4 separate regions of the Homo sapiens genome follow, and all the other regions are reported to be linked to region 4. Evidence: microRNA targets listed by miRTarBase, many of them from high-throughput screens and not tested one by one. Region 4 holds a microRNA gene; each other region holds the end of a gene's coding sequence.

Region 1 (3,000 bases), not on the chromosome of region 4:
TCTCTACTAAAAATATAAAAATTAGCCGGGCGTAAGGACAGGTGCCTGTAATCCCAGCTACTCAGGAGGCTGAGGCAGGGAGAATTGCTTGAACCCGGGAGGCGGAGATTGCAGTGAGTCAAGATTGCACCCCTGCCCTCTAGCCTGGGCAACAGAGCAAGACTCTGTCTCAAAAAATAAAATAAAATAAAAAGTTGTTTGAAAACTAAAACATCCTTTCATCATCCTTATACTTTAATAGATATTATGTATTAAATGTTTACTTTGTCTTAACTGTAAACCAATTTATAGTTAAATAATTTTTTAAATTTCTTTGCCTTAATTAGAAATCACTTGTTTTAATTTAAAAAATTTTAATTATAAAAGCTCGGGTTTTCTGTAATATTTGTATATGTACACAGGTTCTAATGTCTGCTTTTTTTTTTCAGGATACTATTTTTGAGACAACAAATTAAGGAACTTGAAAAGCTAAAAAATCAGAATTCCTTCATGGTGTGAAGATGTGAATAATTGCACATGGTTTTGAGAACAGGAACTGTAAATCTGTTGCCCAATCTTAACATTTTTGAGCTGCATTTAAGTAGACTTTGGACCGTTAAGCTGGGCAAAGGAAATGACAAGGGGACGGGGTCTGTGAGAGTCAATTCAGGGGAAAGATACAAGATTGATTTGTAAAACCCTTGAAATGTAGATTTCTTGTAGATGTATCCTTCACGTTGTAAATATGTTTTGTAGAGTGAAGCCATGGGAAGCCATGTGTAACAGAGCTTAGACATCCAAAACTAATCAATGCTGAGGTGGCTAAATACCTAGCCTTTTACATGTAAACCTGTCTGCAAAATTAGCTTTTTTAAAAAAAAAAAAAAAAAAATTGGGGGGGTTAATTTATCATTCAGAAATCTTGCATTTTCAAAAATTCAGTGCAAGCGCCAGGCGATTTGTGTCTAAGGATACGATTTTGAACCATATGGGCAGTGTACAAAATATGAAACAACTGTTTCCACACTTGCACCTGATCAAGAGCAGTGCTTCTCCATTTGTTTTGCAGAGAAATGTTTTTCATTTCCCGTGTGTTTCCATTTCCTTCTGAAATTCTGATTTTATCCATTTTTTTAAGGCTCCTCTTTATCTCCTTTCTTAAGGCACTGTTGCTATGGCACTTTTCTATAACCTTTTCATTCCTGTGTACAGTAGCTTAAAATTGCAGTGATTGAGCATAACCTACTTGTTTGTATAAATTATTGAAATCCATTTGCACCCTGTTAAGAATGGACTTAAAAGTACTGCTGGACAGGCATGTGTGCTCAAAGTACATTGATTGCTCAAATATAAGGAAATGGCCCAATGAACGTGGTTGTGGGAGGGGAAAGAGGAAACAGAGCTAGTCAGATGTGAATTGTATCTGTTGTAATAAACATGTTAAAACAAACAAAAATTGTTATTTTTCTTTTCCTTCGGTCAGTGCACATTAGCATTTGAACTACCTGGGGATTCTTTATCAGAACTGTTCTTGTTGAATATTTATACTTAATTGAAATAATTCCTTAAGGGAGGTTTTGTTTAAAACGTATTAACAGGAAATTGTGTATGAGATATTTAATGAAATAAGAAATTCAACAAGAATGATTAAGTCACTTCCCAAGTGGTTGTCATTTGTTAAACCCTGGTTTACCTGTCTTGCTATTATGACATTTCATTTGGAAGGATGTTTGTGTTGTAGCTAACTGTTCAAGTCTGGTGCTGACTGCTGTTCTTAGCCATCACAAAACGCTAAATTTGTGTAATTGGAGCTTCCTGCTGTTATCTGGAAATAGCAGGAAAGCGCAGCTTTGTATATTGTTTCCTAAAGTATATTAAAATAAAAAAAGAAACTATTGCTACTATAAAATTACCTTGACTTTTTTTTTCCTTTGCTGAAATATTAGTCACATAGCCTTAGCTTCACACTGCCAGTAATGTATCAAATCACAAGGGTTTCCGCATGAAAAAAATCTTTTCTTCCCCCACAAAAAAACCTTTACCATCAAAATCTTGCCATCTGATTTAGAAAGGTGTTTCTTCTTCTTCTTCTTTTTTTTCTTTAAATTGGTTTAGGGTTTTTTGGTGATTTTTTTTTTTTTTTTTTTTCTGTTGGGGCAGATAAGTGCTTCCAAAACTGGCAGCACCAAGGGCTTATTTTTTATGTTAGACATCAATGTCAATGTTACTACATTCTCGGATGCTAACATAAATTTTGAAATTGCTCTTGTGCTTTAAGCATATATTGAAAGTATGGAAGTTAAATGTTCAGGCTTTTCAGTAAGCTCAAAAAGTTAACTGTAAGCGATAGTGTTGGTGTTTTCTAAAATACAAAAATGTTCCAGTGTAATTAAAAGGAATTAAAATCTTGAAGATATTTTCCTGTAATTTAAGGATACTTTTTAAATGTAAGAAAAGACATGTCATTAATTTATTGTCATGTTTATACCTCTGTGAGATTGTTAACATCTGCTGAATTTAACTAGTGCATGTAAATGAAACCCCAAAGAGCTGTGTGTTCAGCTAGAAACCTTACTGTATCTTTCCTGGAAAGAAGTGAGCAATTTGTTGTAATAGGCAAATGTTTCCTGATCAGATGGCAATTTGTGATTTAGGTAAATTTGAATTTGATTTGCTTATAGTCTACTGGTCTGTGTACCTATGTTTTGTTTTTCAAAAAAGTTTACATCCCTAAATGAATTAGTCACATATATTTAGGAGAAGATGCCTAATTTGGTATTTCTTAATAGTGAATTTTTTTTTTTCTTGAGACAGAGTTTCACTCTTGTTGCCCAGGCTGGAGTGCAATGGCACGATCTCGGCTCACCGCAACCTCTGCCTCCTGGGTTCAAGCGATTCTCCTGCCTCGGCGTTCCGAGTAGCTGGGATTACAGGCATGCACCACCACGCCTGGCTAATTTTGTATTTTTAGTAGAGATGGGGTTTCTCCATGTTGGTCAGGCTGGTCTTGAACTGCCAACT
Region 2 (3,148 bases), not on the chromosome of region 4:
CTGGCATGTTCGGGGACTGTCCTCACTTCTAATGGAAGGATGCACAGTTCTTGGAGGACTTACAGAGTGCAGTTCTGGGCATTACTTACTTTACAATCCCAATGTTTGCAGATATGACCAATGTGGTATTTTTTATGTAAAGCCCTGGACCAAGGGCAGCAGTGAGGGGCATCCTGCTCTCAACTCTCCTACAGACACTGGCTTGGCCAGAAAATGGGTTCAGAGATCAGGCCCTAAGAATCCAGAGATGATCCCATTCCCTCAACAGTTCTTGGTGACAATCACCAGTCTCTCCTTCTTGTAGGGCTTGAGATATAAATCGTCCACTTCTAGTTTTTACAGACATTCTCAGTTTCTATTGCCTCCATTGGTAAGACCTTGTCCTAGAAGCAGCTCTACCAGGACACCTGAACCAGGAAACAAATAAGGCTTGAATTTGGGAGTCTGGCATGATAGATTCGATTACATTCCCCAAAAACAATCTATGAAGGAAAAGGGATTTTGTTGTGTTCTGTTTTCTTTTAGAGACAAGGTCTTGCTCTGTTGCCCAGGCTGGAGTGCAGTGGTACAATCTTGGCTCACTGCAACCTCAGCCTCCTGGGCTCAAGCAATCCTCCCACCTCAGCCTCCCAAGTGGCTGGAACTACAGGCTCATGCCACCATGCTGGCTAGTTTGTGTTTGTAGAGACAGGATCTGGTTATGTTGCCCAGTCTGGTCTGGAACTCCTGGCCTCAAGCAACCGTCTTGCCTCGGTCTCCCAAAGGAATCTTTTCTAAATAATAATTATAGGCTTCTTATCTTCCCATCATTGAAGTTTTAATTCACAGGACAAAACAAAATAGGCCTGAGTCCAAGGGCCCCTCGTAAAATGTTTCCATGTCCTCTTACATAGACTCACTTCCACCCTACCTAATTCAGCAAATTAAACCCTGGGGATCATTCTCCCCAGTTCTCCCTGGAGTACCACTCAGGCATGTCTGAAATATGGTAGATTCAGTGGACACACCTTTGGCCTGTCAAAGTACCTTCCCAGACTGAGAATAGATCATGACCAGACACCTGAAGTCCATACTGGAAGGAATGTTTATGTTCAAGACCAGAGCCTTGTGGAATGGAAAAAAAAATCCAGGGCAACAGGTTTAAGACCCATTAGGAGACAATATTGTCGTCATGAATATAAATGAGGCCTAGGCAGGTTGGGAGTAGCTAGTGTCTTGGCTCTGGCACAACCAGGCCCTGTTCCTCCACAGGGCTGGCCAGGGCAGAGGTGAAAGGGGCTGGGGTGTGACCGAGTGAGCTGGGGTAGAGGTAGAAAAAGGGACACAGAACATCCCAGGCCTAAGCTACATGGAGTATGAGAGAACAGCTGGAATGTGCTCTAGAAGCCCTGGGAGAAGGCCTCAGTTGAGGCTGAATTCAGATATGCCTGGGACCCGGTCTCTGTTAAGAGACCCCGGAGAGCTGGTGCAGAGCTGATGTGGGCAGCTGAACAGGGCCAGGCAGGGGCAGAGGCCAGGTGTGGGAGGGTGTGAGCACAGTGTTCTTCACAAGACCATAAAAGTCCAGCTAGAATGTTCCGTTTCTAAAATCAGATGGGAACATTCTTCCTCCAGTTCCAAAAGTAAAAATCTGAGAGCAAAAGGTTCTGGCAAAGGGAAAGTGGGGCCGGAGAAGGGACAGACTAAGTAAGCCCCAGGGGATGAGAAGCCCTAGGAGAGGGTGTGCATCTTCTACCATGGTGAGCACAACACTGTCCCCTGCAGACACAGGGACAGCAGGGACTTGAAGCCACAGCCCCCCTCCTCAGCACAGGAAGGTGACCTGTACATAGGATAGGACTCCTTATCCTCACCAGAGGATGCAGTAGGGTGGACAAGAGCAGGTGAAGACAGTACAGGAGCCCAAATTCTAGGTCCAATGGTAGTTTTTATTCCCCAGGAACAAAGATAATGTGGAGAAGAAACTCCAAAAGGAAACAGAGCACGGATGACAGAAATGACACCACGGCAGCCTGGCTCAGGAGTCAGGTAGATAGATGGCTGCTCCACAGTGGACCCGGTCATGGCCCTGGTTTCTTGGATCCACATTTGCCCCGTCTCTTAAGTGTCCATCTCAGAGGTGGAGGATGGAGACAGTGAGGTGGAAAACGTGCTTGCTCTACACAAAGACAAATGGATCTTCTATTCCCAGAGGACCAGGGACACCAAAACCTCCCTCTTCAGAATGGAGGTAGACAGATAAAAATGAGAGGGGCTTGAGTGTCACAGACAATCTGAAAGTAATAATAGGGGCTCACTGTGGCTGGCAGAACTGGTACTGAAATGGGGACTACAGGGGAAGCAGCTTCCAGTTTTATGGTGGAGAGTCAGTCCTGAATCAGGCCCTGGGGCAATTATAACCAGAGTGCTGTTTCTAGCCACTTACTTCAAAGGACTATGGCTATGTTGAATCAGAAGCCATTATCTTTTTCCCAGAGGATGCACTTCCATCCCTATTTCTGGCATGATCCTGCTCCCTACGAGCCTGATCCTTTAAAAAACAGATTGGCAAGCGACGAGAAAAACGGTGCCTCACATGCTTGAGATGTGACAGCTTCTCCTGCAGGCAAGAACCTCTCAGAACAAGGTCCTTTGGTATGAGCTAGATCATCCAGGCCTGTCCCTGCAGAACACACCAAGACTCATCCCTGTACTACAGGGTGGCCTCTGGCTATGGCCTGGCACAGTGAGGACAGAGGCGGGGTCCTGAGTCAACATCACAGGGAGGTCTCCTGGAGGATGCAGGTGGAGCTGCTCCCCTGATAGGCTGTGCCATCCAGGGCCATGGCCTCCTTGTCTCTGCTGTCCCCCAGCACACCATTCCTCGGCTTCTCAGGAAACAGGCCAGTGTCGAGGTGGTCCTGCAAACACAGAGCCAAAGGGGTGGAACTGGTGAAGACGGATGACGGGTGCTTGACAGGATTCACACAAAAAAGGTCCCCGCCAGAAGGGAGCCCAGCAAGGCTGGGTTCGGGAGGGAGAGCAGGGGGAAAAGAGGGAGGGCATAGCACAGCAGGGAGCACAGGGTGGGCTGGGGAGGGGAGCTGACTGGCCCAGGCTGGGGCTGAGCTCCTCTGAGCCCTGAGATCCTTCTGCCCACCAAGCCAGT
Region 3 (3,136 bases), not on the chromosome of region 4:
CCCAGAGTCACAGGCCCTCACCCTGCTTGGTCCCTGCAAACTTGGCTTTCCTCTGTCTCCTCCTGCAGTGGATGGAGATGGGGAGAGGCTGCGTGGATTTGTCGTATTAAATGTGCCTCCTCCCTGCACAGGTGGGATCCCACCAGGACATCACCGAAGACAGCTTTTCCCTCTTCTGGTTGCTGGAGCCCCGGATAGGTACTGGGGAAGGGGAGGGAGAACAGAGGTGTTCTGGGCCCCAGAAGGCGACCCCCACTGCAGCCTCTCAACAGAACTGTAGACTAGCCACACCCACCCTTCCCTAGAGATCGTGGTGGTGGGGACTGGAGACCGGACCGAGAGGCTGCAGTCCCAGGTGCTTCAAGCCATGAGGCAGCGGGGCATTGCTGTGGAAGTGCAGGACACGGTGAGTCCCGGGACTGGGGCATGCTGCGGGGAGCACAGGCCTGGCGCTAGACAGGCTGATGCTGGCCTTTTCTTTGCAGCCCAATGCCTGTGCCACCTTCAACTTCCTGTGTCATGAAGGCCGAGTAACTGGAGCTGCTCTCATCCCTCCACCAGGAGGGACTTCACTTACATCTTTGGGCCAAGCTGCTCAATGAACCGCCAGGAACTGACCTGCTGACTGCACTCTGCCAGGCTTCCCAATGCTTTCACTCTTATCTACCCTTTGGCACTTATCTTGCTTATCAACATAATAATTTATACACTTCTCCCATTTTGTATCAGGTGTGTTGCTGGCCAGGAGCTGATGGCTCACTGGGCTCTTGGAGGGGAATGTGAAGAAACCAAGGAGTCACTTTTTCATCTAGATTACTTAGGATTCCTTGACTTTTCAGAAGTCGGGAAGCAGTATGTTTGCCTGTTGTAGACCTACTTGCTCACATGCAGATTTGAGAGGACCTCAACGGCTTTTCTCACAAAATCGCTGATTGTTTTTCTTTTTTTGAGATGGAGTCTCGCTGTCGCCCGGGCTGCAGTGCAGTGGCGTGATCTTGGCCCACTACAACCTCCACCTCCTGGATTCAAGCGATTCTCGTGCCTCAGCCTCCTGAGTAGCTGGAATTAGAGGCCCCTACCACTACACTGGGCTTTTTTTTTTTTTTTTTTTTCTGGAGATGAGTCTTGCTCTTTCGCCAGGGTGGAGTGCAGTGGCGCAGTCTCAGCTCACTGCAACCTCCGCCTCCTGGGTTTCAGTGATTCTCCTGCCTCAGCCTCCTGAGTAGCTGGGACTAGAGGTATGCATCACCACGCCCAGCTAATTTTTGTATTTTTAGTAGAGAAAGGGTTCACCATGTTGGCCAGGATGGTCTCGAACTCCTGATCTCAAGTGATCCACCTGCCTCCCAAAGTGCTGGGATTACAGACGTGAGCCAATGTGCCTGGCCGAGAGAGATTCAAGTTAGGGAATATATATGTGTGTTGACCTGGTCCTATATGGCCAAGCTATGGGCTAGCAGGATGCCCTGTGTATGCCAGTCCCAGGGCTTGTTCTTTGACCCCTTGGGAGCCAGAGTCAGATGCTCAGTGTGAGACTGAAACCCCAAGAGCCATAGCTATAGCTATAGTCAGCTGTTTTGTGAGCAGCCTCAGGAGGAACTTTTTGGACCTGGAACTACCCGCTTCCAGGTCCATGGAGCACATTTATCTCGGGGCCTGAGGCTCCCCCTGGAAATGAGGGTGCTGTTTTTGTGTGCATCTGTGGTAGTGGCAGCTACAGAGCCCCACCTGTCTGTTGAAAGATCAGGCATCACTTTTTTCTTTCTAAACTTTTATTGAAAAAAAAACCGAGGAGGTGTGCTGGATCCCTTTTCAGAAAAGCCGCTTCTCATACCTGCAGGCAGAAGGACCACCTGTGAGGTGAGGGCAGGAGAAAGGAGGCATGAGGTATGGCAGAGGCCCCACCAAGGACAGGGTGACTTACGAATGGAGGCTATGGACGCCACCTTCCACCTGGGCTGAGGACGTTCTCTTCTCAAACTTAAGCTCCCCAGAGTACATCATGGCTCTGAAGAAGGGCAGAGGTCAAATGTGGGTAGCTGGCCCTGGACCAGCCCCTCTACCCATGTCCCAGCTCCCCAAGCTCACCGGACTTGGGTCAAGCTCTTGGCACCAATGTCCTGGCATGAGTGTTGGATGCCAGCAATCAGGTAAGGGACAAATTTGTGGATTGACCCTTTGTCCTGCACAGCACCAGACACTCCCTGGGCCACTTTGATTTTGTCAGCTTCACTGCAGGGAGAGGCAGAGACACGGGCAAGGTCACAGCAGAGATGAGACTGTCAGTGCAGGATTAGGGTGGGGTAACTGGCTTGCCTGTCCCACCTGAAATATCTGTTCTGGCTGCTGAGGTGCTTGTCCATGGCATCGAGAGAACCCATACCGCGATATTTCTTTAGCCGGATCCCATCGGAAAAGAAGTATTCACCAGGGGCCTCAGTGGTGGCAGCCAGGAGAGAGCCCATCATGACTGCGGACAGATGGAGTGCTTGGGTTAGAGCCTAAGCAGCACTAGGGAGGGGGTCCCACTGGCCTTCACGGGTACTGGGCCTCACCTGTGGAGGCCCCAAGGGCCAAGGCTTTCGCAATATGACCCACATTTTGGATTCCTCCATCAGCAATGACCGGAACACCAAAGCGCCGTGCATACTCTGACACCTTGTACACTGCTGTTGCTTGGGGCCGCCCACAGGCCAGCACTGTTGAGATGGAGGAACACATGGGTGGATAGGGTTAATGGGGACGGGCAGTGGACCCTGTGGCCATATTTAGGACCCAGGAGCTTTTGGCTACATCTGCATCAGGACTGCAGCTTGGCTGAGGAACAGACGTGTCTGGGATGGCTGCTGCCACATCTGCCTTAAATAGTACAAACAGCTGTGCTGACCTCTACTCACCCCCACATGTGCACGTGCATGTGTGCAGTGCCCAGGGCAGCCTCAGGCACATGCAGTCTTAGCAGCCGGGAAAGCCCCCGTCCAGCTGGTATCAGATGGGGCAGGAGTCACCGTGCAGTTAGTCCCCAGAGGCACTGAGGTCAGGCCCAGCCCTTCCTCCCTGAATGGTGGGCAGCTCAGGCAAGATAAGGGCAGTGGTTGTGTAGGAGAGCAGGCTGTGGTTGTGTGGAGCAGGCAGT
Region 4 (3,148 bases):
CCAATGTAAAACACATCCCAATGCAAGAAAATTGTAAGTAGCTTCTTAAAAAATGAGCTTCAGAAACAGTGCAAGTATAATTAAAAGTTGAACGGTGCAAGCCCACCTCCATCCTTGCTATCCTGGATTCTGAGGACATCAGAGTCTTTTAGACCTCTAGAGAGGATAACAGGTCTGAGGTGTGGGGACACACTAGGCTGTCATGTTTGCACTCCAGATCTCTCCTGATACCAGCCTGCAACCCAAACCCACTCTTTTCTCTCCTCCAAGAATGGGAGCCTTGAGAAGGGGCCAGCACAGTAGAGAAACCTATAACACTGCATCCTTTGTTGGCCCCATCCATTCTGAGGAAAAGAATGCCTGGACTGTGAGAGAATCCTACACAGAGATGATAATGGGAGATGAGGGGGGTGGGTGTTGGAGTTCCTTTTCTTATTCCCAACACCAACATCAATAGGCCTCTTTTCCCATTTAATATTTCTGATACAAAGAATGCTCTGCTTTGGTCAGGTGGGTTGCAAAGAATTTCATTCTGCAAAATTTAGTAGGTAAAATGATAGTGAACATTTTGATAGCAAATGCTCTTAAAAAAATCTTGGGATATCAAATGTGATCTCTGACTACTGCTAATATAGTTAACCAAGACTTATTAAACAACAACAACAAACAACACTGAAAATATAAAGGTCACCATTCAAAATAAAAATGCACCAATCATTGTTTTCACTGATTTGTTTGGCAAGAGGCTTGCTTCAAACCCCAATTCCACAATTTGCTGTATGATCTTAATGATGCCACCTATTCTCTCTGAGGCCCAGCTTCCTCATCTCTAAAAACACTTACGATACTTTACAAGCACACTGCAGAGATTAAATGAGATTAAATATATAAAAGTGCTTTGTCAACTAAAAATTATGCTGTTCTCTTCCCTGGCCATGATATCTGATAAGTAATACACAGATTATGGACTGAAATGATATCCACATTGAGAAAAGGAAAAAAAAAAAGGTCATTCTGCACCAAGATATTTTCTCTCAGTTGTATTTGTTCACTATGTTTTGGACTTTTCAGAATAAAGTTGTTTAAAATACATAAATGAAAAGTAGTACCAAAAATGTTCACATGCAGCATCAAATCTAGTTTTCAGTTTTTCAGAAAACTCAAATGATTTCCCAGATCATCTAGAAGGGTATAAACTACAATTACGCTACAGAAGCAATAGAGAGATCAATGTCAAGGCAATGGTTCTATTTTTAAAATCTCAAAAGATGCCTTCAACACAGTGAAAGTTCAGGAGAATGAAATAAGCACCCAGAAGGGTGTATTCATTTCCACTGAGATTCTGCAGTATCGGTTTTTCTTCATTGTGAGCTTGATTAATTTTGCCAGTACAGTTACAATTAAAATAAGTAAGCAAAATTTGAAACCCTGATTTGACTTTGAAAAGTTAAATTTTCAAGGTTCTTAAGACCTTCAAGGAACTGAACACAAGCAGCAGGGACATCCCGAGGATATGATGATGGCAAGGTACTGAGGAGATATGGAAAGTAACCACGAGATAGAAAAAAAGGACAAAAATAATAAACGGAGGTGAAACTCTCACCAGAAAAAAAAAATCACTACGGAAATGATATCTAAATCTTTCTTACGTTACAAAAGAAATTTGATTAATGGACTTGGAAACCCACCTAATTTCTGGGTCACTATTTGATAAATGATTATTTGATAGCCATGACCAGCTGCTATGTACCATATCTGACACTTGGGACATATCAAAGAATAAATAAACAAAATGTTCTGTCTTCAGAGAGTTTATATTTTTTAATGAGGCCGTACCTACAGTAAGTAGATATGGGGAAATGAAGAGCAGATAAAGTATTGAAACCTGGCCTCAGATTCATCAGGTACCAATATTTTATCTACTCTTCACTCCCCCAAATACAGCCTGCCTTGGGTGCCTGAAACTTCCCCCTCAGGTCACAGTTATTTACCAAGATCACAACAAAGTATCTCCTCTATTGTTCTCCCCTGTGAGACCTGTTCTTTCAACAGGGCACCTACCACACTTCTTGTAGCATGTGAGTTTATTCACAAGACTTTTCTTCTCCTAGGTGTAAGATGCAGTAGGTGCTCAATACTTATTTCTTTTAATAAATCAAGAAAGCTAATAGTAATCTAAGTCTTTGAAAGGATAAACAGCAAGTACACTGCTTTATTTTGCCATTCAGTTAACAGGATAAATAACACTGTCGTTTCCCTAGAACTTTAAACAAATTATTGAGCACTTTAAAGAAATGTCTCCTTTCAAAAATCAAGCTTAGCTACTAAATTATGTGACCTACATAAACAAAAGAAAGGCAGTCTTGCTAGCTAATCTGTCTGCCTCCTTTCTTTCCAGAAAAAAAAACAAAAACAAAAAGAAAACACTCAATTTTTTTCATGATAATCAGTATTATGCCATAAAGACACAGAGACTGATGAGAAATATTTACATAGCTTCCAATTCTGACTACCAAGTAAAATTAGTAATGTGACAGCAAAGAAGTCTTGTAAGTAACACCTTAATCAAACGATTAAAGTGGACATCATCAATAATGAAGCAAGTCAAAATCACGTACCACCTAATCAGATGCAACATGCAGAATATAGCATCCCTTCTGTGATATTCCTGTAAGGATGCAAAACCTGAATCCAATTATGAGGAACAAATGATAAACCCAAATTGAGGGACATTCTATACAACAGGCCGATATCCTTCAACAACATCAAAACAATGAGAATCTAAGAAACACTGAGTAAGTGTTCAAGAAGGAGCCTAAAGACATAGCAAATAAAGGCCACTGATAATTCTGAACTGGATCCTTTCCTTATTAAGGACATTATTAGTGGCTCTCACAAAACTTCATTGAGGTGTAAAACTTAGATGGTAGTAATATATCATTGTTAATTTCCTTATTTTTATGGTTTGTATTGTGATTATGCAGAAAAATGCCCTCATGTGCACAAAATATATATCAATGTTTTGGAGGGTGACAGGGTATCATATAGAAATCTTATTGTCAGATGGTTCTGGTAAAAAAAATAACTTTGAACTGAGTTTGCAAATTTCCTGCAGACTTAATATTGTTTTAAAAATAATGTAGTTGGG

The links. The annotated mature microRNA hsa-miR-577 reads UAGAUAAAAUAUUGGUACCUG and lies in region 4 at 1,902-1,922, opposite strand. An mRNA with a match to its seed (bases 2 to 7 or 8) in the 3' UTR can be bound and repressed. Matches are read on the target gene's strand: a 7mer-m8 pairs with bases 2 to 8, a 7mer-A1 pairs with bases 2 to 7 and ends in A, and an 8mer does both.
Region 1: the mRNA of WAC is a reported target of hsa-miR-577. Seed matches in the 3' UTR shown: 7mer-m8 at 1,125-1,131.
Region 2: the mRNA of SLC5A6 is a reported target of hsa-miR-577. Seed matches in the 3' UTR shown: 7mer-m8 at 2,237-2,243.
Region 3: miRTarBase lists NDUFAF3 as a target of hsa-miR-577. Seed matches in the 3' UTR shown: 7mer-A1 at 660-666.

The regions. Positions count from the first base shown.
Region 1 is chr10:28,619,109-28,622,108 of GRCh38, forward strand. WAC (WW domain containing adaptor with coiled-coil) reads left to right here. Exons shown (of 14, transcript NM_016628.5): 14 at 429-3,000. The coding sequence ends at 498. Among named protein-coding and RNA genes, the nearest start is that of BAMBI, 57 kb to the right of the region's middle.
Region 2 is chr2:27,197,680-27,200,827 of GRCh38, forward strand. SLC5A6 (solute carrier family 5 member 6) reads right to left here. Exons shown (of 17, transcript NM_021095.4): 17 at 1,908-2,900. The coding sequence ends at 2,757. Among named protein-coding and RNA genes, the nearest start is that of ATRAID, 13 kb to the right of the region's middle. RefSeq lists a silencer at 188-388.
Region 3 is chr3:49,022,571-49,025,706 of GRCh38, forward strand. NDUFAF3 (NADH:ubiquinone oxidoreductase complex assembly factor 3) reads left to right here. Exons shown (of 5, transcript NM_199069.2): 3 at 132-198; 4 at 306-406; 5 at 486-925. The coding sequence ends at 602. It overlaps IMPDH2 (inosine monophosphate dehydrogenase 2), which reads right to left. Exons shown (of 14, transcript NM_000884.3): 10 at 2,556-2,699; 11 at 2,326-2,470; 12 at 2,089-2,232; 13 at 1,925-2,008; 14 at 1,755-1,834. The coding sequence ends at 1,813. Among named protein-coding and RNA genes, the nearest start is that of NDUFAF3, 2.0 kb to the left of the region's middle. RefSeq lists a silencer at 2,698-2,837.
Region 4 is chr4:114,655,548-114,658,695 of GRCh38, reverse strand. It overlaps MIR577 (microRNA 577), which reads right to left and starts at 1,937; the gene lies at 1,842-1,937. The region is part of intron 2 of UGT8 (UDP glycosyltransferase 8); the gene reads right to left.